Linked DNA regions of Homo sapiens. The protein of the gene in region 1 purifies or fractionates together with the protein of each later gene. This does not show direct contact. Each region holds a gene or a part of one and is shown in the gene's direction. Other genes may lie near its edges. The genes, in order: SLC32A1, PLEKHA5, SEPTIN11, DHX36, ERICH5, DLAT and NSUN2.

Region 1 (4,155 bases):
GGAGGAGCCCGGCCAGGACATCAGCTGGGGACTTACGCAGGGACCCATTCAGAGCAGCGGACCCTCACGGAGACTACTACAAAGGGACTAACACAGGCACGAACGCAGGCAACCCCATTCGGGAACACATACGTAATCCAACACACTAGCTCTGGCACACACACTGGAATGCGCGCAAAACCACACAGACACAGAACACACGCGGTTACCAAACCTCATTCTCAGAGGCCACACTGATCCAACCTCAAGCAGAGTCTGATACAGCATCGGTCTTTGTCTCTGGGTCTCTCCCTTACTCGCGCTCACACACCCGTACCCCAATCAACACAAACAGCCCAAGCTTTCACAGCCTGGAGGCGGCCGTCGGAGCAGGGCCCCAGCGCACCGCGAGCCTCTGCTTCCTCCGCCTTGCAGCGCCGCGAGCCCTTCTTTCCTCCGCGCCTGGCCCCGTCTGCGCCCCTCTCGGCGTGGGCATTCGCAGACCCGCTAGGAGGCTGACGAGAGGTGTCCTCATAGAGTCCTGCCTTCTTCCAGACCCCCAAACGAAAAGAAAGAGAAAAGCCAACCTTTCGCCTCCATTCTGCACGCATTTGGAGAGCGGCTGGTGGCGAGCGATCCGCACAATCGCTTCCCTCGCGGCGTCCCTGGACGGGCGGAGAGAACCCGGGTGACTGAGCCTGAGGCTGAGCTTCCTTGGGAGCGATCCATGCCAGCCACTTCTACCTTCAAGGGGGACTCGCGGCCGGGTTTACGCGCGAAGGATGGGTGCCAGGGAAACTGACTTATAGACGACCCGCTCCGCGAGAGACTGACAACTCAGTCCTGCGGGCTTTCGGGGCGCCCAGACCAGTCCTTAGCCAGAGGATCTGGGGCTGCACAGCTCCCGGACCCTGGAGGGGGTGGTCCGGGGGTGGGAGACTGCGAGCATCAGCCCACGCCGGCCCCCTCCCACCCTGCGGCGGCGAGGTGGGAAGGGCCAGGATGCGAGCTTAGCACCTCCCCTAGAAATGCAGCACTTCGCCCCCCCACCTCCCCTGCCCTCGGCGCTCCCTCTTTCACGCGCTCCCTCCCGCCTCCTTCCCAAGGGCGCCCTTCTTCTGCCCCCAGCTCACGTCTGAATCCCTCGGCGCCCCCTTTCTCTTCTCCTAGCCCCTTCCTCACGTCCCCTGCCTCCGGGTATTTCCTCTCTCCAATCCCCCACCCCCGCACCGCCTGATTCCGAGGGGCGGGAGCGCATTGGGCTGCGCACGGGTGGGGGCGCCGCGCCAGCTTCGCGTAGCTGCTCTGACGCCGCTGCCGCCGCCGCCGCCGCCGCCGCCCTCCGCAGCCCAGCTCGCGCCCCGCGGCAGCTCCGCAGTGCACTAGCCACCACCGCCGCCGCCGCCGCTCCGCCAGACCTGCTGCCAGCTTGCCCGGTCCAGCCCTGAGAGAGCCTCGAACGCCAGCTGCGAGGGTCATGAGCCAGAGAGCCCCGGGGCGCCGCGCGGAGAGCAAGCGGAGATAGCGACTTTGCGCCCCCCAGCCCTCGCCTTCTTGCATCGCGTTCCCCGCATCCTCGGGTCCTTCTGTCCTTTCCGCTGTCCCCACCGCCGCCATGGCCACCTTGCTCCGCAGCAAGCTGTCCAACGTGGCCACGTCCGTGTCCAACAAGTCCCAGGCCAAGATGAGCGGCATGTTCGCCAGGATGGGTTTTCAGGCGGCCACGGATGAGGAGGCGGTGGGCTTCGCGCATTGCGACGACCTCGACTTTGAGCACCGCCAGGGCCTGCAGATGGACATCCTGAAAGCCGAGGGAGAGCCCTGCGGGGACGAGGGCGCTGAAGCGCCCGTCGAGGGAGACATCCATTATCAGCGAGGCAGCGGAGCTCCTCTGCCGCCCTCCGGCTCCAAGGACCAGGTGGGAGGTGGTGGCGAATTCGGGGGCCACGACAAGCCCAAAATCACGGCGTGGGAGGCAGGCTGGAACGTGACCAACGCCATCCAGGTAAGCGCGGGATTCCCAGTTCTGCCTGTCCTCCCCCCTCCCAGCTCAGCGTGCCGGGCTCTGCCCCCGACAGTCGCCCGGTGATCTCGGCCTGGAGACCCCCTCCTGTACCCAGGAATCTCCCTTTCTCCATCCCTCCCAGCCCTGCGCGGGGACCTACGCCCCCAGGCGGTGTTTTCCGCCCTAACCCACGCTCCCTCCCAACGGCACCAGCTGCAAGACCGCTAGGCTGAAGTTCGGTCTGAGACACCTGTCCGGAGACACTGCAAAAGTGAAGGAAATGGGGGGAGGGAGCAGGAAGCGATGAGAAAGAAAGAAAATCAGGATTGGAGGGCACGGTTTGGTCTTGGACTCTGGAACGGATTCACAGCTGCATTTTTGGGAGGAAAGAAGAAGGGGAAATCGCTGAGGTCGGAGTCTCCTCCCCCCGCACACACGCATAGACACGCACACGTATATAGGCAGGCACACCACATGCCCACAGCCCCCCTTCCCACGAACAAAGGCGCAGGCACAGGCGCACACGACATGTATCTATATATAGACCACAGTACTATCCCCAAATGCACCTGCGTACACCCCTACAGCTCCACAAACAAAAGCATATACCTGCACATACCAAACACACGAATATTCGTTTGAACATATGCACACACACATGCACAGATGCATGCAGACAGGAACCAGCCTGCTCCCTTGGGTGCGGCCCTGTTGGAGACATACAGGTATACACACACGAAAGCACACACATGCTCCCACACAAACACATTTAGTCCGCAATAATCCAGCATTACCTGTGCACAGACTCGCCCCTCTCGCCCGAAATCCCGGCTGCACCGCAAAGAGGCGGCCAGCTCCTCCCCGTGTGACCCTGGCGAAGCCCTCTCCAGAGGCTAAGAATGGCCCCTGCTCTCTAGGCCCTCTCCCCTTATTCCTAACCCCCCACTCCCCACCAGGCGGCGCAGGACTCCTACATAGGGAGCAGGTTTGGAGTCTTGGCAACGACCTCCGAGCTAGCAGGGGCTGGCAGGCCGCAGCTTTCTGGGCCGAAGGAGACTTCAGCTCTAGGCAACCCCGGTCCCTTACAGCTTGGCCCCGCGGCGTCCCTGGAGCGCACTATCACTGGGGCCACGGAAGGCAGGTTTTCTGGGAGCAGAGGCCTCCCAGGGGTTGTTCCATGTATCGGGGTAAGCAGGACTCCACCGGGCCCCGAACACCAGATGGCCCGACCCAAGGCGCTTTCCGCTCCGGGGCCCGGCGAGACGGCCTTGCTGGATCACGGACCCGGGGCTGCTCCCGCCTTCGCTGTGCCCCGCGACTTCCCGGGGCGTCTTTCAAGGCTCCGTTTGATAGGCCCCAAGGGAGGCCAGGGCAGGAGGCTGGAGGCTCGTAGGCCTCCGGGACCCTGGATTTCGTTAGCTCTTAGTCCCCGTGTGGATTCTAAACCCTACAGCCCTGTCCGCCTGACCCTGAAGCTTCTGGTTCTAGACTCTTGCTCGGTTCGGCTTTCTGGCCTCCCTGGCGCCTTCCCGCCAAGCTCCTCCTCCTGCTTGCCTCCCCAGCCTCCACTTAGTCCCCTTCCTTAGGTCTCGCCCTCGCCTCACTCTAACTCCAGCCTTGTCCTAAGACTCTCAATTTCCAGCCCTGCTTCCTCCTCCCCGCGCGCTGCTCCCCAAGCGTCTTCACATTGTCTCTGTTCTTGCCTCCCAGGGGCTTTGCCCCACCTTCAGCCCCTCTCCCTCTCTACCCTATTTCCTTTTCGCCTCACAACTGCAGCCTTTAACGTTTCCTCCTCTGGTCTGAGCCTGAGACGCCCGAGTTTTCCTCTTTAGCTCCCGTGCCCCATTCCAGCCCCACCACAAATCCCGTGCCCACTCTTTCCACTGGCCCAGGCCCAGCTCACTACCTTTCTTAGAGCCCCTTTCCGACTACGCTCCCTTCTGTCCCTTCTCATCTCCTCCCCCAACTCCTCATTCTGTTCCTGTCCCCAGAAACCATCCCGAAGTATCTCCCTTCCCTCCTGTGGCTTCTCCCTATTCTCAGCCCTCTCCCACCCTAGCCCTCTCGCTATCACCAGCCATTAGCGCACCTTTCCTTCTCAGATCCGTCCATACATCCCTCCCTCTCCATCTCTGGCTCGACACCCGGGCTCACTATTAGTTCCCCTACAT
Region 2 (3,500 bases), on another chromosome or scaffold:
TCATTGCAACCTCTGCCTCCCGGGTTCAAATGATTCTCCTGCCTCGGCCTCCCGAGTAGCTGGGCCTACAGGCGCCCGCCATCATGCCCAGCTAATTTCTGTATTTTTAGTAGACACAGGGTTTCACCATGTTGGCCAGGCTGGTCTCTAACTCCTGACCTCGTGATCTGCCTGCCTCGGCCTTCCAAAGTGTTGGGATTACAGGTGTGAGCCACCGCGCCCGGCCTAAGCATTTTCAAATATGACTGATTTATAGAAAATAAGTGTTTTCGTAGTTTTATTACTGATGAGAAAGAAAATAGAGGTGTTTGTTTTATTAGTCTTTTCACGGTAAATGTATAACTTAAAACATTACGTTTTCATCAAAATAAAAGAAATCTCTAATATTTAGACACTGTGCCCCTGCTTTTCTCCTCATTTGAGTTTTATTCAGTTTTCTCTTTCAGGGTCAAGTTTTATGCAATTTTCTATTTCAGGGTCATGGGACTGGCTTGCTCCAGAGCTGCCATATTCTTTATATTCTTTTTTTTTTTTTTTTTTTGAGACAGACTCTCACTCATTGCCCAGGTTGGCACAATCTCAGTTCACTACAACCTCTGCCTCCTGGGTTCAAGCAATTCTCCCACCTCAGCCTCCCGAGTAGCTGGGACTACTGGCATGAGCCACCATGCCTGGCTAAATTTTTTGTACTTTTATAGAGACAGGGTTTCGCCATGTTGGCCAGGCTGGTCTTGAACTCCTGATCTCAAGTGATCCACCTGCCTCAGCCTCCCAAAGTACTGGGATTATAGGCGTGAGCCACTGCACCCAGCCTGCCCTGCCCTTTTATGGTGGTGGTGATGGTGTTTTTTGTTTTACCCAGATTTACTGGAACTGAGTTATGGGGGTTTGTTTGTTTGTTTGTTTGTTTGTTTGAGATGGCATCTGGCTCTGTCATGTCATCTGCATGCTGGAGTGCAGTAGCACGATCTCAGCTCGCTGCAACCTCCACCTCCTGGGCTCAAACCATCCTCCTACCTCAGCCTCCCAAGTAGCTGGGACTATAGGCATATACCACCACACCTGCCTGGCTAATTTTTGTATTTTTGGTAGAGACGGGTTTTTACCATGTTGCCCAGGCTGGTCTCAAACTCCTGGGCTCAAGTAATCCACCCACCTCAGGGTCCCAAAGTGCTGGGATTATAGGTGTGAGCCACCACTCCTGGTCCATATTTTTTTTTTAAGCCAAAAAAATATTTTCTATTCCTCTTTTCTCTCTCCTCCCTTATAATATCGTCTCTTTTTCTTTCTGTTATTGAGCATACATCACCAATTACTAGTTAAGGATCAAATAGCAATTTCATGTGCCTTTCTGGTGATATCTAAATGACATTCAAAACCTCTTCTTGTGATTTTGAAAACAAAATAAATAAATGCACTTTACAACATTTTTTATTCCATCATACTTTTCAGAAGTTTTCATTTATGTATTGATATGTTCATTTTTACATTGAAGGAAAGACCAAGAAGTGCAGTGGAACAGCTCTGTTTGGCTGAAAGTACTCGACCAAGGATGACTGTGGAAGAGCAAATGGAAAGAATAAGAAGACATCAACAAGCGTGCCTGAGGGAGAAGAAAAAAGGGTTAAATGTTATCGGTGCTTCAGACCAGTCACCCTTACAAAGCCCTTCAAATTTAAGGGATAATCCATTTAGGACTACTCAGGTATATGAATTGCATTTGATTATTATTTTGTGTAAATCTAGTATCACTGAATTTTGGAATCAGAGTTACATGATTGATAGGTCTTAAAAGGTCTGCAGTATGGATACTTATTTTATATTATTTAATTCTCCTAATAATAAGCTAAGACAGCTAAGTAAAATGTAAATAACCCTGAGTTCAAGAGACCAGAGCTAAACTACATGTTGGATGCCCGTGGACTAGTTGTGGACTTAATGTCTTCAACTTTACAGTGATGATACAGCTGCCCAGACTCCTTAGAGACACTAAGAAAATAAAAGGGTTTTCAACAAATGTAAAATGCTATGCAGGTTACCAAGATAGTCCCCAATTCCCCTCTCAATAAAATATGTATTGCTCTGTGTCCTGATTTAACATGACCTAAATTGTAGCAGGAGAGAGCTTCTAAATAAAGTTCCAAGTGTGCTGTCCATCACCTCTCAACTTCAGGCTTATAAAGTGATGCCATTTTGTTTCTTTTTGTTTTTTGCCCCTCTTTATAAATTCAGAGACAGCAGCCTAGCCAACCTGTTCAGTAGCTTCTGTCTGGTCTTTCCCTGTTTGTAGACACTTGTCACCTAGCAATAGTATCTTAAAAGTTTGTCTATAATGGCATAAACTGAATGCATCAGCTGAACATGCTTTCCTGTCCTAATGAATATCCCCTCTTTCCACCGAATCAAGTGCAGGCATTGCTAATGGAGACTAAACAAAGCAACAGTTTGAATTGTGGCACATTCTGCAAATTACAAAATGAATGGTTTTTTTTAAAAGAGTTGAGAAAAATGTGTGGAATAGTGCTATATATATAAATTTTCTTTGTTAGTTTTCATAGGAAAACTTCTTCATGAGTGGAGATCCAGCTTTGTTCTATTTTGAGAATTAACAGGCACTATTTATAAAATATACATGCATGCACAGTATGAGTATAAAAATGCTATATGTCTTTTGAGCAGACTCGAAGGAGGGATGATAAGGAACTGGACACTGCCATTAGAGAAAATGATGTAAAGCCAGACCATGAAACTCCTGCAACAGAAATTGTTCAACTAAAAGAAACCGAACCCCAAAATGTGGACTTCAGCAAAGAGGTAGCGAGATTATTTTATGAAAGGTATTCCAAAGGAATAGATTTGTGAAGATTAAATCAAGTGGTAAGGTTGAAAATAAAGTGTGTTTCTTTCAGTCACAGAGTCCATAGAGCTAAATGAAAAAATAAGCTTTCTGGCCGGGCGCGGTGGCTCACGTCTGTAATCCCAGCACTTTGGGAGGCTGAGGCAGGCGAATCACGAGGTCAGGAGATCGAGACCATCCTGGCTAACACGGTAAAACCCCGTCTCTACTAAAAATGCAAAAAAAAATTAGCCGGGCTTGGTGGCAGGCTCCTGTAGTCCCAGCTACTGGGGAGGCTGAGGCAGGAGAATGGCGTGAATCTGGGAGGCGGAGCTTGCAGTGAGCCGAGATCGCGCCACTACACTCCAGCCTGGGCGACAGAGGGAGGGAGACTCCATCTCAAAAAAAAAAAGAAAAAGGAAAAATTAAGCTTTCTTTAGTTTGATTGATGTATTCAGCCACATCAAGATATGCATTAATTGACTGGGCACGGTGGCTGGTGTGTGTAATCCCAGCACTTTGAGAAGCTGAGGCAGGCGGATCACTTGAGCCCAGAAGTTTGAGACCAGCCTGGGCAACATGGTGAAACCCTGCCAATACTGAATACAAAAATTAGCCAGGTGTGGTGGCATGCACCTGTAGTCCCAACTGCTACTGGGGAAGC
Region 3 (3,500 bases), on another chromosome or scaffold:
GCATATATATATATATACACACACACACACATATATATACACACACATATACACACATATATACATACACATATATATGTGTATATATATACAAACACATACATATATGTAGTCATTGTATATATTTCTAAGTAAATGTTTTTTATACATTTCGAAAAAGGACCAGAGGTAAAGAACCACTTTTACCACTAGGGTGAGTTTTTTGTTGGGATCATAATTATTTTTGGCCAGGTGCAGTGGTTCACGCCTGTAATCCCAGCACCTTGGGATGCCAAGGTGGGAGGATCACGAGGTCAGGAGTTCGAGACCAGCCTGGGCAAATGGTGAAACCCCGTCTCTACTAAAGATACAAAAATTAGCTGGGTGTGGTGGCGCATGCCCATAATCCCAGCTACTCGAGAGGCTGAAGCAGGAGAATTGCTTGAACCCAGGAGACAGAGGTTGCAGTGAGCTGAGATTGTGTCACTACTCTCCAGCCTGGGCAACAGAGCGAAGGAATTTTTAGTCCCAAGGAGTTCTAGTGTCACAGGAGTCTGGGACTCTGAGGGATGCTCTTCAGCATCCCAGCTCAGCTCCTCCAGGAAGTCAGCAAAATGGTACTTTACACCTGTATTAAAGCCAGTGCAGCCACATGACACATATTTGTTTGTTTTCTTTTATTTTCTTTTGAGACGGAGTCTCTGTCACCCAGGCTGGAGTGCAGTGGTACGATCTCAGCTCACTGCAACCTCCGCCTCCCAGGTTCAAGCAATTCTCTGCCTCAGCCTCTTGAGTAGCAGGGATTACAGGCACCCGCCACCACGCCTGGCTAATTTTTGTATTTTTAGTAGAGATGGGGTTTCACCATCTTGGCCAGGCTGGTCTTGAACTCCTGACCTCGTGATCCACCCACCTCGGCCTCCCAAAGTGCTGAAATTACAGGCGTGAGCCACCGTGCCTGGCCATGTTTTGTTTTTTGAACAGATCCAAAGAACTTTACATCAAAAGGATTTTCATTCCATTCACCAAGCCTGTTTTCTTTTTCTCTCCAGCTTCACGAGAAGTTTGACCTTCTAAAGCGGACACACCAAGAAGAAAAGAAGAAAGTGGAAGACAAGAAGAAGGAGCTTGAGGAGGAGGTGAACAACTTCCAGAAGAAGAAAGCAGCGGCTCAGTTACTACAGTCCCAGGCCCAGCAATCTGGGGCCCAGCAAACCAAGAAAGACAAGGATAAGAAAAAGTAAGCAGGTGTCACCCCCCTGTATCGGGGACCTCTAACAATTTATTCCTCTTGCATGTCTCTACTTTTCCCATTTACAGACTGGAAACTGGTCCTTTACCAGAAAGATAAAAGCAAGTATTTTCTCTACAGTGCAGGGAAGATGATGAAGGTTTTTAAATTTTTTTAAAAGGTACACAAAGATTAATTTATAAAACTTTACCACAATTGACCAAGCAATCAGGCCTGGAGGAACCTGTTGTCTCCAGTAGCATCTTCCACACCAACACTAGGAGTCTCAAAGAAGACAGGTTGATGTCTCTTCAGCACCCTCTGAAGACAATTCTCATGACTCTTGATAGAGAGCATCCTAAAATCACAATTGTTAAAATTATTTTCCTATTCTGTGTTGTAAGACTTCGTAAGCCAGTCACTGAAATTCTCGTTCCCAAAATGAAACATTTGGAAGAGCTGCTAGTGGCCACTAGTTTCCTCAAAATTCAATATGATGAATTGTTTTATTGTGAAATGGGATCCAAATGCCTATCCAGTTGACACCTCTGCCAACCTCAAGCCAAACCTAAACCCATTCATAAAAGGTTTTTTTTAAATAGGGTCTTAATGTCATGTGCCAAAGGGTCAGATTCTGCTCTTGAGTTGGTCACTTCCTGTGATACTCCAGTAGCAGCTGCCTGAAACCAGTGGGAGATTTAGGCCTCCCTTGACATTCTCCTGTGATTTGAAGCTCTCCTTTGAATCATCATAAAGCCTAGTTTTATGTCAATGCTATCGGTTTTGACAGGAAGCACGATGGTAAGAATACCACTAACGAAAACCTTTGTGGTGTCTCAATGACAAATATGCAGATGCCACCCTCCTTTGTCTAATGTACGGTGCTTTAGGGCAGCTATTTAATATAAAGCAACTCAGAACTTGTTTCAGGAAGTGTTGCTCTTTCGCCTTACATGCCAAGGTTCTAGGGAAAAAGCTGACCATATGTAAAAACATTGATGCTCAAGCACATAAAGAATTACATTCTTTAAACATAGAGTACATAGGATCAAGTCTCTGCACAATAATTGAGATGTGTTATAGGGAAAAGTGAGCACAGTGCTATTGTCCACTTAGTCTTGGTGAATGTGCAGTAGGCTCACCCCTAAGGAATCTCATGTTGCCTGCAGTAAAAATAAAAATGGACTGCTACAATGACATACTGAGAGAGTTTTAAATCATGCTTTACAAACTGACATTCTGAGCTCTGAGACAGCAGAAAATGTATCACCAGAGCAAGGGAGGAGGCAAATGTTCTGAACAATAATTGAAATGGTTGTGATTTTATTTGGAGTTGGCACAGATCCAAGTGACCAAAGGAGTTCAAGGCCCAAAATTTAGTTATGCTGGATTAATTCTGAGAGTAACAAGCACATAGATTATAATCTAAGAAAACCCTTTGTAGCTATGCATGTCGGGAGAGCATCTAACACTAATGGTGATGTTTCCCATGCAGAGACTCAGATTACAGTGACTCTTCCAGTGAAGACAGATGAAAGCCATTGGGCATTGTACCTTTGTTAATCCAAGCTAAACTAACCAAGGATATAGGGGTGTGTATGTGTCTGTGTGTGTGTGTTTGTGTGTGTGTACACATACATCTATAGGTATGAATGAGACAAAAAGCTGCTGACTTACAGCTTAGGAAATGCAAAGTCAAGTTTTTCTTTTCACCCTGAGGCACTCAGTGCATAAAGGTTCAAGTTTTAAAACTAAGAATGTTTCCAAAAGACCAGCAATGTTAAAAGAGTATTTCGTGTATACTAGACGTGCCTTTAAGCAATAAAAATTCCAAGAGCTGATCATTATTGTGCTTCCATTTTAGAAAAGTTTATTTAGTAACAAACTTCCCAGTGTAGGGAGGTTTTTCCTTGCCCTTTTGAACATGTTAGGTTATTTTCTTCCTATCCTGGGGCCTTACCAATGTGTAATGCTTTCAAAGTTTCTATGAAGCCTGTGTGGATTCTATTTTAGCTTATTTATATATTCTCATTTATTTTGAAGGATATTATACTTAATTTGGTTCAGAGTAGTCGCCAGGTTTTGCACCTGACAATGGCACATATTTTTTGTATAACTTTTTCTAGGTCCTTACCCTTTTCCACACTTTACATTTGTACAGTGAAAGCAACTGCCAGTGGAGGCCTGAAATGTCCAAGAAAAAAAAAAATCACACCTCTTACTGCCAGTGGTAGTGGAGTGTTTTGGTTAGAGGGACCGCAGAAAGACAGTGGCCAGGCTAGACAGAGCA
Region 4 (3,500 bases), on another chromosome or scaffold:
GTATTTTGACCTCTGATGTGATGTTTGCTTTTTACAGTGTGTACTGCTTGTTTCGCTTGTTATGAAATGTAAAGAGCATTTAAATAACAGTACCGAAGTGATTTTTTTATTAGTAATTTTGAAATAGTAACAATCTATTTGTTTAGGTTTTGTTTTGATTACCTTTCTCCGCTAATTCCGGGTGCTACAAGTAGTAATGCTTATCTAGAATTCAGTAAAACTTTGATATTCTGGATATTCTATTATGGCACCATCTGGGTTAATGATGAAGAGAAAATAGACTTCTAACTAATGGATTTTGAGTTCAACTTAAAACTCTATTCTTTGATATTCTGTGTTATTTTGTAGAACTGTGAGATGTGTGTACAGTTTGGTAGCAGTAAAATGGTATTGAGTGAAGACTAGACTGCTGTTTTTTATTAAAGTAGGTGTGGAAAAGTAGGGTAGAATTGTAAAAGCTACAGGACCATTTTCTGGAATTAATAGTAAGTAATAGAGTCATTGTCCTATTTACAGTATATTAATGTTTTTAACATTTGAGTACAAATTTATGCTTATATTTTGTCTGCCGTAATAGGTAACTGTCCAATGATACATATACCTGGTTTTACCTTTCCGGTTGTGGAATATCTTTTGGAAGATGTAATTGAAAAAATAAGGTAAGTAAACATTAGGAAATAAAAAACATTAAAAAGTACTAATATATCACTTTTCTCATGTCAAACTTTAGTCTCAGAAACCCATCATTGACTATTTCCTTGTAAAACATTTTTCTGGGAATTAGCCACACTTGGCTGCACATTAAAATTGCCTGGAGCTTTTTAAAATCCAGATGCCTGATTTATACTCCCTACCTAAATTACATTACAGTGTCTGAGGTAGTAGCCAGGCATCCGTGGTTTTTTTTAATTGAGACAGAGTCTCTCTCTGTCGCCTAGCCTAGAGTGCAGTGGAGCTATCTCCGCTCACGGCAACCTCCGCCTTCCAGGTTGAAGTGATTCTCCCACCTCAGCCTCCCAAGTAACTAGGATTACAGGTGTGTGCCACCATGCCCAGCTAATTTTTGTATTTTTAGTAGAAACTAGTTTCACCGTGTTGGCCAGGCTGGTCTCAAACTCCTGACCTCAAGTGATTTGCCTGCCTCAGCATCCCAAAGTCCTGGTATTACAGGTGTGAGCCACCACGCCTGGCTGGTGTCAGTGTTTTTTGAAGATTCCTGGGCAGCAAAGTTTGGGAACCTTTGTCTTTAGTGTTTGAACCCTTTTGCTGGTTCTCCTGCCTGATTTTCACTTTCCTTTGTTGGCTTCCATTGCCGAACCTTTAAATATAATTTCCCCCAGTCTTCTCAATCATTTATGTTTTCACTGTGCAAACCTGTTTATATCCCTAACTGTAGTTCTGTATTTTCACAGCTTTCAGTAGTGTAGCTTCAGAACTGAAGCTTCTCCTGACCTTCGAACTGGCTTTCTGCTCAATAGTATTCTAGTACCACAGATGCCTTGAACCTAACATTTCTCAAGCCTAAATCATTATCTTATATTCTCCCACCAAAAAAATAAAACAATGTGTCTTGCCCAGCATACTTTATAATGGTTAATAATTATCCTCCACTTAGTTTTCTGACCTATAAATCAAAAAGTTAGTGTGTATCAGGCAGTTATGTACCAGGGTATGGCAACTGTTTTACACAGTGAGTAACCAAGTTAATCCAAGTCATTTTGTACTGCCTTCAAACACACACAAACTCTGGGAACTTTCTTCTTGAACATGCTTTCTCATTTTTATTTCTTTGCTAAGGTCCTTACTATCTCTCCTGTGCTAATACAATAGTTCCTCTTTTGGTACTATGTTCTTCACTCTTAGGGAAGCACTCTTTGTGCTATACATGAGGCTTTATCACTTTTTTTTTTTTTTTTACTTTATCACATTTTTAAAAATCTCATGCCAGTACTGTTACAAACATTAATCTCTCAAATAAGATAACTAAAGGCCAGATGTTTAATGCCTTGTCTAAGGTTACACAGCTAGTCAGTAGCAGAGGAGGGATATTCTGACTTGGGAGTCCATGCTCCAGCCCCTCCCCCATTCCATCTAGATGCTGTCCTCTAGTTGAGCTCAGAGATGCCTTGGGGTTAAAGTGTGGGTTCATTTTTGTCTTTTCCCACCTCGTGCCTCTCAGGACTGACAATGATAGGTAGAATTATTGTCCAGATGCGCCCTCTATGGTTTTAGCAATCACTACAGGATGGTAGTAGAATCATAGTACAGCACTCAATTGACATATGAGAGACTTGAATACTGATTCTGGATCTGCCATTAACTACAACTGTGTGACTGAGCAGAATTAAATAGTTCTCTAGCGTGGGTCTGTAGATCTGGATACACTATCTGAATCTCCTGCAGGCACTAATTAAAATTCTTAGATTAACAGACCCAAGGCATACCTACCAAATCCAAATCATCAGGGATGGGATTTAGGAGTCTGTATTTTACAAGCTCTCTGAGGGATTCAATTCTTACGTGCAGTCAGGTTTGGACTTAACATTAATATTAACTTTTGTTCTAAAGCAAACTTAAAATAGAAGGTAAAAGTTACTTACTTTAGTCTTTTTCTAAATTTTTGACTAAAAATGATCTATAGGTTTATATACTTCAATAAAGAAGAATGATTTTTATCCAAAATATCAGGTTTTATAAGTTAATGAACACAAACTGATATTTTAGCTAGCATTCACTTGAAAGCATAATGAAAATGTTCTTTGGAATCCTTTTTGAAAATCCTAAATATAAAATGTCACAGATTTTAGCTAAAACTAGAGTTTCAAAAAAGTGAAGATATTCAAGAATGTTTTTATTTTAGGTATGTTCCAGAACAAAAAGAACACAGATCCCAGTTTAAGAGGGGTTTCATGCAAGGGCATGTAAATAGACAAGAAAAAGAAGAAAAAGAAGCAATATATAAAGAACGTTGGCCAGATTATGTAAGGGAACTGCGAAGAAGGTAAGTTTATTTTGTCTGAAGGTGAGAAATCAGTGGCTAAATAAAACAAAAAGCCAGAGGCTGGGGGCATCTTCTTGAATCTGTACGTACTTAAAGGAGAGCATTGTGAGTCTCTTATTCGAGCTAAATATTGTGCTGATTTGACTTTTAAGCAGTAATTACCCCAGTAATTCTCTCCGATCTGTAGATTATGTTCCTCCATTTGCAGATTGAGTTAATTTTAAGCTTTTGTAGCAAGTTAACAGAAAACTTGATTAAGTATTTCATGACTTTGTGTTTAACTTTGATAGGTATTCTGCAAGTACTGTAGATGTTATAGAAATGATGGAGGATGATAAAGTTGATCTGAATTTGATTGTTGCCCTCATCCGATACATTGTTTTGGAAGAAGAGGTTAGTTTTATTTTTCTTTCTTCAGTTAACATAATTTTAATTTTATTAACGTATCAAGGCCATGAAAAATACAGTTTTCTTAAATGCTTATGAAATAGACTGGAAG
Region 5 (3,500 bases), on another chromosome or scaffold:
TCTAAAAACAATGAAATCAATACAATACAATCAACAAATTATACTATGTATCTTTTTTTTTTTTTGAGACGGCATTTCGCTCTTGTTGCCCAGGCTGGAGTGCAATGGCATGATCTCGGCTCACTGCAACCTCGGCCTCCTGGGTTCAAGTGATTCTACTGCCTCAGCTTCCCGAGTAGCTGGGATTACAGGCATGTGCCACCACACTCGGCTAATTTTGTATTTTTAGTAGAGACAGGGTTTCTCCATGTTGGTCGAACTCCCGCCCTCAGGTGATCCACCCGCCTCAGCCTCCCAAAGTACTGGGATTATAGGCATGAGCCACCACGCGTGGCCTATACTATATATATTATTTAGGGATAGAATAATCCCTTATTATGATTCTAAATATTAGTCTAATCCCTAAATAAGATATATAGTATAATGTGTTATACAAATATTATATATTTATTTTATTTTTTATTTAAAAAATTGAGACAGGGTCTTGCTATGTTGCCCAGGCTGGTCTTGAACTTCCAAGCTCAAGTGATCCTCCCACCTCGGCCTCCCAAAGTGCTGGGATTACAGGTATGAGCCACTGTGCCCAGCCTATGTTATAAATTTAAATCAGACAGCAGCTACTAGTAGGTAGACATTAGGTTGCACAGGAATAATCTATTCTACTGATTATGTGGGGACATTTGCCCTGACCCATTAGACACTGAATCTCACGGAGCTGCTTCCTATCACCTCCCAAGATGACTGACCAGATAGGTGTGTGTGTTTGGGAGAACAGAGGTGAAGACTCTGATTGTTAACAATTATTAGTGCTCCTCACAGCGTAGAACAGTGCCTAATATGTGGTAGTCACACATCGATTTTTATGACGTGCCCTGAAATGTGTGAGGAAAGAGACTTTTCATTCCAAAGGATAATTAGACAGATTGAGTTTGGAATTTCTTGTGTTTTTGGAAGCAAGTTTTAAATATTAGGACAATTTCTGTTGTTTTGAGTGTCCTGAGGATCCGATGCAATCTGAACACAAAGGTTTTATTGACTCCACAGACCTTAATGTGCCTGAAGGTGTCTATAGACGTTCACATCCAAACCCTCCTCCCAGTGTTCCTAGCCCTCTGCTAACATGGATAATCACTGCTCGAATCTTTCCTAATATAAATGGGATCTGTTTTGGCAGACTTCTTTCCAAGGTGTTACAGCCCAAGCACCAAACATGGACAAAGTAAATAGGTGGTAATTATTGACAAGTTCATTGCTAGGTTAATGTGTACATTTCCACTGACAGCTATAATCATTTGTTTGTTCTAACCTGAACTTTCACTAGCTGCTTGCTGTCCATGCGGCCTAGGCAATCAGATGAAGCTTGAATTTCACAGTTATGTGAATTGTTCTTTGTACTGCAGTCATACCTTCAGTTTTCACCCAATATTTCACACTCTGACATCTAGTTAGGTCATCTGGTCCTAACTAGACAAAAGTTTTCCTTTTGAATTGAAGAACAAACATCATAAACATTAAATTTAATTTGTATAGGCTTTTCTTGCATATAGAAATTATATAAATGGGATTTTTTTTCTTTCAAATGTGTGCCTTGTGTCATTTCTGGAGCCTGGCACTTAAATAGCATTTGGTATGTCTTTGTGATAGGCCTGGCGATTGCATATGGCTAATTGAAATGGAATAAAAAAACTACATACATGGTTCAAAAATGTGAAAATATTTGGAAAAGGCAGGTCTGAAAAGTATACCTTCCACCCCATCCTCATCATCTATTTAGTTCGAATCACACCTGTGAATACACACTTATTATTTTAGGGTTTTTTTTTTTATATATTCTTTTGAAGTTTATTTATGCATTGCAAATATTATTTCCTTCTCTCATCTTTATTTATAAAATGTAGTGTACTATACCCACCGTTCCTCACTTTGTTTTTTTCACCTAACACTATGGAGATTTTTCCACATTTATATGCAGAGAACTTCTTTCTCCTTTTTTATACCTGCATAATAATATGTTCCTTGATTTATTTAACCAGCCCCCCTATTGAGGGACATTTAATTTGTTTACAGTCTTTCCCTGTTGCAGACAAGACTGCCATGAATTCCTTTGTGCCTACATCATTTTGAATGTGTGCAAGTATATCTGTAGGACAGTTTCCCAGGAGTGGCATTACTAGGTCAAAGGGTGTACGCACTGAAAGTTTTGATAGATAACTGCCTAAATGTGTTCTGTAAGACTTGAAGCAGTTTACACTGTCATCAACAATAAAGTAAATCTTTTTCTAAAACAGAAAACTTTCAGACATTTGTGCAGCCACATCGAAACATACACATGGGACAGAAGTCAGGAGATAAGGAGGGAGCATGCACTTGGTTTCAGGTGCTTTAGTTTGTGATCTTATTTAATCCTCACAATAGCCTTAAAACACAAACATTAATTGCACCAAATACAGCTAGAAAACGAAGCTTAATACAGATAAGTCACTTGCCCTGGTCTCAGAGCTAGTAGGTCTAGTAAGCCTACTTACTAGATGGATGGATGGACCTGGGGCACATGGCTAATGTGTGTGACTCCAAAGCCCCTGTTCTTTTCACAACTTCCAGTTCCATCTGGGATCTGGTCCTAGTTCTGCAAGAAACTTGTAGTGTGGCCTTACACATAGAACATATGCAATCAGCTGAGTGTGGACGCTCGAGCCTGTAATCCCAGCTACTTGGGAGGCCGTAGTGGGAGAATCAGGAGGTCAAGCACCACTGTACTCCAGCCTGGGCAACACAGTGAGACTTCTCTCTAAAGAAAAGAAAAAAGAGGCCGGGCGCAGTGGCTTACCCCTGTAATCCCAGCACTTTGGGAGGCTAAGGTGGGCAGATCACCTGAGGTTGGGAGTTCGAGACCAGCCTGACCAACATGGAGAAACCCCATCTCTACTAAAAATACAAAAAATTAGCCAGGTGTGGTGGCTAATTTTTTACTGGTATGCTGATGCCTGTAATCCCAGCTACTCTGGAGGCTGAGGCAGGAGAATCGCTTGAACCAGTGAGCCAAGATCGCGCCATTGCACTCCAGCCTGGGCAACAAGAGTGAAACTGCATCTCAAAAAAAAAAAAAAAAAAAAAAGAAAAGAAAAGAAAAAGAAAAGAGAATGAAAGAAAAGAAAAAAAAGCAAGCAATAACTGTTGAGTAGATGGATGGGTGAATGGGTGATTGACAGAGACGGGGATTCAGGGAGGTAAGAGTATTACTCAGAAAAGCAGAGGAGGAATCAGAACCTAATGAATACCAGAAACTGAAAGGTAATATTGGCCAAGATGGGCTTAGAAAGAGTGTCGGGTTGTGTATAGAGCCTCCTAGCTATGCAGGAAAAGGTTAGCACTGTAAAACAACGCTTGATTGTCTGCCATTAAATCATGCTTCTGGGCTGAGTGCAGTGGCTCATGCCTGTAATCCCAGCACTGTGGGAGGCCGAGGCAGGTGGATCACCTGAGGTCAGGAGTTCAAGACC
Region 6 (3,500 bases), on another chromosome or scaffold:
AGAGACTAGTCACTAGAGAAGTGTTACCTTGGTTGAACTTTGAAGTCTATTGTGGCCCAGGAGCCTTTTCATTTTAAACACTTCTTTTTTTTTTTTTTGGAAACAGAGTCTGGCTCTGTTGTCCAGGCTGGAGTGCGGTGGCGTGATCTCGGCCCACCACAACCTCTGCCTCCTGGGTTCAAGCGATTCTCCTGCCTGAGCCTCCTGAGTAGCTGGGACTACAGGTGCATGCCACTACGCCCGGCTAATTTTTGTATTTTTAGTAGAAATGTGGTTTCACTATGTGGGCCAGGCTGGTCTTGAACTCCTGACCTCGTGATCTGACTGCCTTGTGCCTCCCAAAGTGCTGGGATTACAGGCGTGAGCCACCACCGCACCCAGCCTTTTTTTTTTTTTTTTTTGAGATAGAGTCTTGCTTTGTCGCCCAGGCTGGAGTGCAATGGCATGATCTTGGCTCACTGCAATTTCCACCTCCCGGGTTCAAGCAATTCTCCTGCCTCAGCTGCCCAAGTAGCTGGGATTACAGGCGCCTGCCACCATGCCTGGCTAATTTTTGTATTTTTAGTGGAGATGGGGTTTCACCATGTTGGCCAGGCTGGTCTTGAACTCCTGACCTCAGGTAATCCACCTACCTTGGCCTCCCAAAGTGCTGGGATAACAGGCGTGAGCCACCGTGCCCAGCCTTAAACATATATATATATATCTCCAGACTTAAACATATATATATGTGTGTGTATATATATATATGTGTGTGTATATATGTGTGTGTGTGTGTGTGTGTGTGTGTGTGTGTGTTTTTTTTTTTTTTTTTTTTTTTTTTTTTGAGACGGAGTTTCGCTCTTGTTGCCCAGGCTGGAGTGCAATGGCACGATCTCGGCTCACCACAACCTCCACCTCCTGGGTTCAAGTGATTTTCTTGCCTCAGCCTCCCGAGTAGCTGGGATTACAGGCATGCGCCACCATGCCTGGCTAATTTTGTATTTTTAGTAGAGACGGGGTTTCTCCACGTTGGTCAGGCTGGTCTCGAACTCCCGACCTCAGGTGATCCACCCGCCTCGGTCTCCCAAAGTGCTGGGATTACAGGCATGAGCCGCCGCGCCCAGCCTAAACATATTTTTTATTGGGTATTCTCAGCTGGGAAATGGAAGGATTCATCAAAGATGTGTTCATCAAGGAGAGGCACAACAGTACAGAAAGCCAATGGCTTCTTTTAGTTTTACTTTTGCAATCCTAAATGTTTAAGTTCTTTGCAAGGAAGGCAGTAGTTGAATAAAATATAAGTTGTCAACACCATAGAAATCCCAGTAAAGCTGTAATTCTTTACATTGAAATACTTGGTATAATATCAAGTATAACCTCTTTGAAAAGTTCCAAAGATGCTTTTAGGGCTGAAATCCAACATTAGTATCTAGGTTGGTAGCTCCCTTAATTAGGCATGTATGTGGTTCTTATCTTTAGCAGCATAGCTGACACCATCTTAGAGTCCTGTGAGTCTGCATGGGGACTGTCCTTGGAGATTTTTTAATAACTTTGAGAACTAACCACTGTCTGTAATCTTTCATAGTTTTATTGAACAGATTTTTATTTGGCATTTACTTTGTACCAGGTTGTATTATTTCTAAGAACTTGAAAAATATTAATCTGTTTAAATGTATAACATCCCAGTACCAATCCAGTGAGATTGGTACTATTATTATCCCCGTATTGTAGGTAAAGAAACCAAGACACAGAAGGTTAAATAGGTTGCAAAAAAGGCTATATAGCTAGCTTGAATGAGAAAAATCACTTTACTTAAAACTGTGCTGTGAGTTTGGAGGGATAGTGGAATCTCTTAAGTCCCATAATGTTTTTTCTTTCTATTTAAGGTTTTGAAGTACAGGAAGAAGGTTATCTGGCAAAAATCCTGGTCCCTGAAGGCACAAGAGATGTCCCTCTAGGAACCCCACTCTGTATCATTGTAGAAAAAGAGGCAGATATATCAGCATTTGCTGACTATAGGCCAACCGAAGTAACAGATTTAAAACCACAAGTGCCACCACCTACCCCACCCCCGGTAGGTATGCTTCTAGAATTCAGGAAACACTTACCTTGTTCATCTCTAAATTAAGGAGTTTTGATTAGATGATATCCTAGGTTCCTTCCACCTCCAAGATTCTATGACTGAGGAGGGAGATAGTTTATTAACATTTGTGGAGACCTATAGTGTTTGTTGTACTGCACTGTTCACCTAATGGTTGATAGTTTGGGCCTTGTAGCTTTTTTCTTCCTGCTATCTAGAGTCCTGCTGAGAACAAAGCTGAGTGACATGTTCTCTTTCTGCTTTAGATACAGATACCATGCTTGTGGAAAGTAAGGCTTCATTGCCCCACCCTTTTTTTTTTTTTTTAAGAGACAAGGTCTCACCCTGTTGCTGAGGCTGGAGTGCAGTGGTGCAATCATAGCTCACTTCATTGCCCATTTATTATTAAATATACTGAATAATCTCTGTCACTTGAAATCCTCTTGTTATTGACTTAGTAGGTCAAGCATATATTTGTGATACAGTGGAACCTTGACATGACTTGTTTTGCCTAGAATTTATTATATCACCAAATACTTGATACACTATATAACTATAACCTGAACTTGTATAACTCCAACCAGAGATAACACTGACAGTGAAGCTTCAGTGATTCTCACAGATGCTAGAATCATGTGAGTTTAAACTAGGTAAACATTTCTATAAGAGAAAAGTTGATTTCTGACTACTGTACATTTGTGGGAAGCTGGCAAGTAGCATTGTTGTTGGATTTCTTTTGTTGTTGTTGTTGAGACGGAGTCTTGCTCCGTCACCCAGGCTGGCGTGCAGTGGCGTGATCTTGGCTCACTGCAGCCTATGCCTCCCGGGTTCAAGCAATTCTCCTGCCTCGACCTCCCGAGTAGCTGGGATTACAGGTGTTAGCCACCATGCCCGGCTAATTTTTTTATTTTTAGTAGAGAAGGGGTTTCACCGTGTTGGCCAGGCTGGTCACGAACTCCTGACCTCAGGTGATCCACCCACCTCGGCCTCCCAAAGTGCTGGGATTACAGGTGTGAGCCACCACACCTGGCCGTATTTCTTAAGATACTTTTCAACATGGGGCCTTACAGCATAATTTTATATTTTGAAATTAGCTGGCTGGGTGTGGTGGCTCATGCCAGTAATCCCAGCACTTTGGGAGGCTGAGGCAGGTGGATCGCTTGAGGTCAGGAGTTCAAGACCAGCCTGGCCAACATGGTGAAACCCCATCTCTACTGAAAATACAAAAAATTAGCTGGGCGTGGTGGTGCGTGCCTTTAATCCCAGCTACTTGGGAGGCTGAGGCAGGAGAATTGCTTGAACCCAGGAGGCGGAGGTTGCAGTGAGCCAAGTTTGCGCCACTGCACTCCAGCCTGGGTGACAGAGCAAGACTCTGTCTCAAATAAAAAGAAAAAAAAAAAAGAAGTTAGGATAATTAAAAATAAAAATCATGTTGGTGATG
Region 7 (3,500 bases), on another chromosome or scaffold:
CTTTTTTGTCCTACTTAATTTTTATGGTTTAGAAAATTTTCTCCCCTTTAGTTTTACTGATTTGTTTACCATATGGATTGTCTTCAGTGATGGTGATTGGCTAAATTAGGTTGAAAATGATAGTGAACATGTATTGAGAGCTCATTGTATGGCAAGCATTACTCTGTGCTCTTTTTTCTTTTCTTTTTTTTTTTTTTGAGATGGAGTTTCACTCTTGTTGTCCAGGCTGGAGTGCAGTGGCGCGATCTTGGCTCACTGCAACCTCCGCCTCCTGAGTTCAGGCAATTCTCCTGCCTCAGTCTCCCAAGTAGCCGGGATTACAGGTGCGCACCACCACACCCTGCTAATTTTGTATTTTTAGTAGAGACGGGGTTTCTCCATGTTGGTCAGGCTGGTCTCGAACTCCCGACCTCAGGCGATCCGCCTGCCTTGGCCTTCCAAAGTGCTGGGATTACAGGTGTGAGCCACTGTGCCTGGCCTTGCTCTGTGTTTTTTAGGTGAATTAGTTGGCTTTATCATTCACACAACCCTCTAAGGGCAGATACTGTCACCATCTCCATTTTTCCAGATGAGGAAAAGGAAGCAAGGAGAAGTACTTGAACTGAGGTTACGGAGCTGTTAACTGGCTGAGCTGAGATTTGAGTCTAGGTAGCTCTGTTCCTTAGCATTATGTTTTCATGATTCTTACTTGTTCATCTCTATATTTAGTCTCTCTGGCTTACAGTTTCATTCTCCTCCCATCCTCTTTGGAGACTGTACCTATATCATTCTGTGATTTTGGGGCAGTGTAGAATCCCTAAAAGTAAATTATGTCATGCTATAGACTCTGTAAAGAAGTATATTTAGATCTTGGACTAGAAATTGAAAAACTAGAATTGCTTTAAATTAAATGTAGAATATTTGGTTTTTTAAAAACATGAAACAGTTTCTTGCTTTGTTAATAGATCTTAGATATGTGTGCAGCACCTGGCTCAAAGACCACACAGTTAATTGAAATGCTACATGCCGACATGAATGTCCCCTTTCCAGGTATGCATTGGACTTGTGTTCAAAATGGTAGGAATGCCACTTTGGCAGATTGTAGACAAGGAAAAGACTCTAACTTTGCCTGCTAATTTGGCTCTAAAGTCTCCTATGACAAGCAGTTGGGTTTTCCGTCTACCGGAAGTAGAACTGGACATCTTGCCTACCACCGTCAGTAGTACTCAAACAAACACACTCATACCATGGGGGAGCTTTATTTTAGAATTATGTGTGTTTTCTATAAAAACGAATGGCATTTCTTTTTTTTTTTTTTGAGATGGAGTCTCACTCTGTTGCCCAGGCTGGAGTGCAGTGGCGTGATGTTGGCTCACTGCAAGTTCCACCTCCTGGGTTCACGCCATTCTCCTGCCTCAGCCTCTCGAGTAGCTGGGACTACAGGTGCCCGCCACCATGCCCGGGTAATTTTTTGTATTTTTAGTAGAGACGGGGTTTCACCATGTTAGCCAGGATGGTCTCGATCTCCTGACCTCGTGATCCGCCCGCCTTGGCCTCCCAAAGTGCTGGGATTACAGGTGTGAGCCACCACGCCCGGCTGCAGATGGTGTTTCTTTATCAAGCCTACTTACAGAAGATAGATTTCACTGTTTGAATTTTTAGTAACAATTTCCCCTTTCCCCCACCTTTGTTCATTATTATTACTATTATTATTATTATTATTACTTACTGCCTTACATGAAGGGTAGTAGTGTGTAGTTAAAAGCTACCATCAGACTCCCTGGGTTCAAATCCTAATCGGCAAGTTACTTACAGTGTTAGACATCCCATGTGAAATGGGACGAATCAGTATGTAGCTTGCGAGGTGCTCAGGAAATGTTAGCTGTTATAGTGACACCACGCCCCTTTCTCTTAAGTGGAAACAAATACCCATCGTGATGTTTTAGAGTCAGCTTTCATCTCGTCCTATCTTTGTTCAGGCAAACTTCTCTAGTTCTGTTTTAATAGGCATATTTGTTAGGTCTGTTTTTTGAAATCCTCTTTTTTACATTGTTTAAAGATAATGCCTTGGCTAAAAAGCCTGCTTCACTTTTCCCTGTTTTTAGTTGTTTTCTCCACATTGGCAGTAAAGAGCCTTGGCGTCCCAGTAGCAGCAGGTTCTCCTTTTTGTATTGTGGATGTTTTGCATTTCATACTGTTGTGAAGAGTGGCTTTGATCATACATGTTGTTGGTATATTTGCCTTTTTGCTGGGGGTGTGAGAAGAACCAGAGATGAGCAGAGGTACACCCAGTAGACTTCCCAGCCTGCAGAGCCTCCCGGGAAGAGCTTCCGTGTTCAGGTGCTTGGGGCCCCACCCTAGGAGCCTGACTCACAGTCAGAGCAGGGTCCCGGCTTGTGTTCAGGATTTTGAAACATTTGTAAGGTGATTTTGTTGTTTCTACACCTTTCTCCTCATCTTTTTTTTTTGTAGTTAATCGTTACTAATAACAGAAAAGACATTTTTGGCATGGTAATTGGCACAAAGTGAATAATTGTTGAATAGATGACTTTTGAGGCTTTCAAAATTCGAGTGTCCATAAAATCCATCCAGAGCCACCTGGTTCCTTTTTTTGAACCACTTAACGTAATTCTGGAAAACCTTGACTGTGGGTCTTAAGTTTGGTGGATTGCTGCTTCTCACTGGCTGACCTTTGGAGGTCGCATATTTCAGGATGTGATTCCACTTAGGCTCCATTTCACCTGACACTGCAATTCTGTGCCTTCAGAGGGATTTGTTATTGCGAATGATGTGGACAACAAGCGCTGCTACCTGCTCGTCCATCAAGCCAAGAGGCTGAGCAGCCCCTGCATCATGGTGGTCAACCATGATGCCTCCAGCATACCCAGGCTCCAGATAGATGTGGACGGCAGGAAAGAGATCCTCTTCTATGATCGAATTTTATGTGATGTCCCTTGCAGGTATTTATCTTATTGGCCAAAAAGCCCAAATCCACTAAAGAAATCAAGTCAAATAGAGACTAAAATGAAGTTGTGCATGAATATGACACAATTGTACATAAGTCTTGGGGTGCGGAGAAAGATAGCGTGAGCCTAAACCAAAAGATGGACACGTAGATACGTCTTAATGAGAAGCAGCACAGCAGATGCTGGATAAAGAACAGAAAGGGGTGGTTGCAATAGCCTGCAGAAAGATAAAGAGAAAACAAAACAAAACAGAGAAAATACGTAAGAGGAAAATAGAATCGTAGACTCTTATTGTGGTGTGTTTTAGGATGTTATTGCTTGGAACAATTTGTGCACCCCAACTATTTTGTATTAGTTCTTCCAGTGAGTACAGTATATAAAAAACTTTGTCATAAAATAATACGTAATCACATTGGATTTTATGTTATTTAGTTGAATGAAAGAAATTTCGGAGTTCAAGCCCTTAAGAAATTCATTTTGCTTGTGTTTTTATACCTTTCTTGAGATAATACATCAACATTTTAGATATTTAGAGTTTAGATATAAAATAATACT

Evidence for each region.
Region 2: the proteins of SLC32A1 (region 1) and PLEKHA5 purify together in Homo sapiens (affinity purification with mass spectrometry; one large-scale study listed by BioGRID and IntAct). This does not show direct contact.
Region 3: the proteins of SLC32A1 (region 1) and SEPTIN11 purify together in Homo sapiens (affinity purification with mass spectrometry; one large-scale study listed by BioGRID and IntAct). This does not show direct contact.
Region 4: the proteins of SLC32A1 (region 1) and DHX36 purify together in Homo sapiens (affinity purification with mass spectrometry; one large-scale study listed by BioGRID and IntAct). This does not show direct contact.
Region 5: the proteins of SLC32A1 (region 1) and ERICH5 purify together in Homo sapiens (affinity purification with mass spectrometry; one large-scale study listed by BioGRID and IntAct). This does not show direct contact.
Region 6: the proteins of SLC32A1 (region 1) and DLAT purify together in Homo sapiens (affinity purification with mass spectrometry; one large-scale study listed by BioGRID and IntAct). This does not show direct contact.
Region 7: the proteins of SLC32A1 (region 1) and NSUN2 purify together in Homo sapiens (affinity purification with mass spectrometry; one large-scale study listed by BioGRID and IntAct). This does not show direct contact.

The regions. Positions count from the first base shown.
Region 1 is NC_000020.11:38,723,131-38,727,285, forward strand, and holds the start of SLC32A1 (vesicular inhibitory amino acid transporter), read left to right. Parts: upstream 1-1,355; 5' UTR 1,356-1,594; coding exon 1,595-1,984; intron 1,985-4,155. UniProt on the Homo sapiens protein: Antiporter that exchanges vesicular protons for cytosolic 4-aminobutanoate or to a lesser extend glycine, thus allowing their secretion from nerve terminals. The transport is equally dependent on the chemical and electrical components of the proton gradient.
Region 2 is NC_000012.12:19,356,733-19,360,232, forward strand, and holds part of PLEKHA5 (pleckstrin homology domain-containing family A member 5), read left to right. Parts: intron 1-1,495; coding exon 1,496-1,705; intron 1,706-2,679; coding exon 2,680-2,814; intron 2,815-3,500.
Region 3 is NC_000004.12:77,029,752-77,033,251, forward strand, and holds part of SEPTIN11 (septin-11), read left to right. Parts: intron 1-1,031; coding exon 1,032-1,219; intron 1,220-3,500. UniProt on the Homo sapiens protein: Filament-forming cytoskeletal GTPase. May play a role in cytokinesis. May play a role in the cytoarchitecture of neurons, including dendritic arborization and dendritic spines, and in GABAergic synaptic connectivity.
Region 4 is NC_000003.12:154,300,488-154,303,987, reverse strand, and holds part of DHX36 (ATP-dependent DNA/RNA helicase DHX36), read left to right. Parts: intron 1-577; coding exon 578-659; intron 660-2,860; coding exon 2,861-3,001; intron 3,002-3,291; coding exon 3,292-3,394; intron 3,395-3,500.
Region 5 is NC_000008.11:98,067,568-98,071,067, forward strand, and holds part of ERICH5 (glutamate-rich protein 5), read left to right. Parts: intron 1-3,500.
Region 6 is NC_000011.10:112,035,408-112,038,907, forward strand, and holds part of DLAT (dihydrolipoyllysine-residue acetyltransferase component of pyruvate dehydrogenase complex, mitochondrial isoform 2 precursor), read left to right. Parts: intron 1-1,865; coding exon 1,866-2,053; intron 2,054-3,500.
Region 7 is NC_000005.10:6,619,545-6,623,044, reverse strand, and holds part of NSUN2 (RNA cytosine C(5)-methyltransferase NSUN2), read left to right. Parts: intron 1-944; coding exon 945-1,029; intron 1,030-2,746; coding exon 2,747-2,939; intron 2,940-3,500. UniProt on the Homo sapiens protein: RNA cytosine C(5)-methyltransferase that methylates cytosine to 5-methylcytosine (m5C) in various RNAs, such as tRNAs, mRNAs and some long non-coding RNAs (lncRNAs).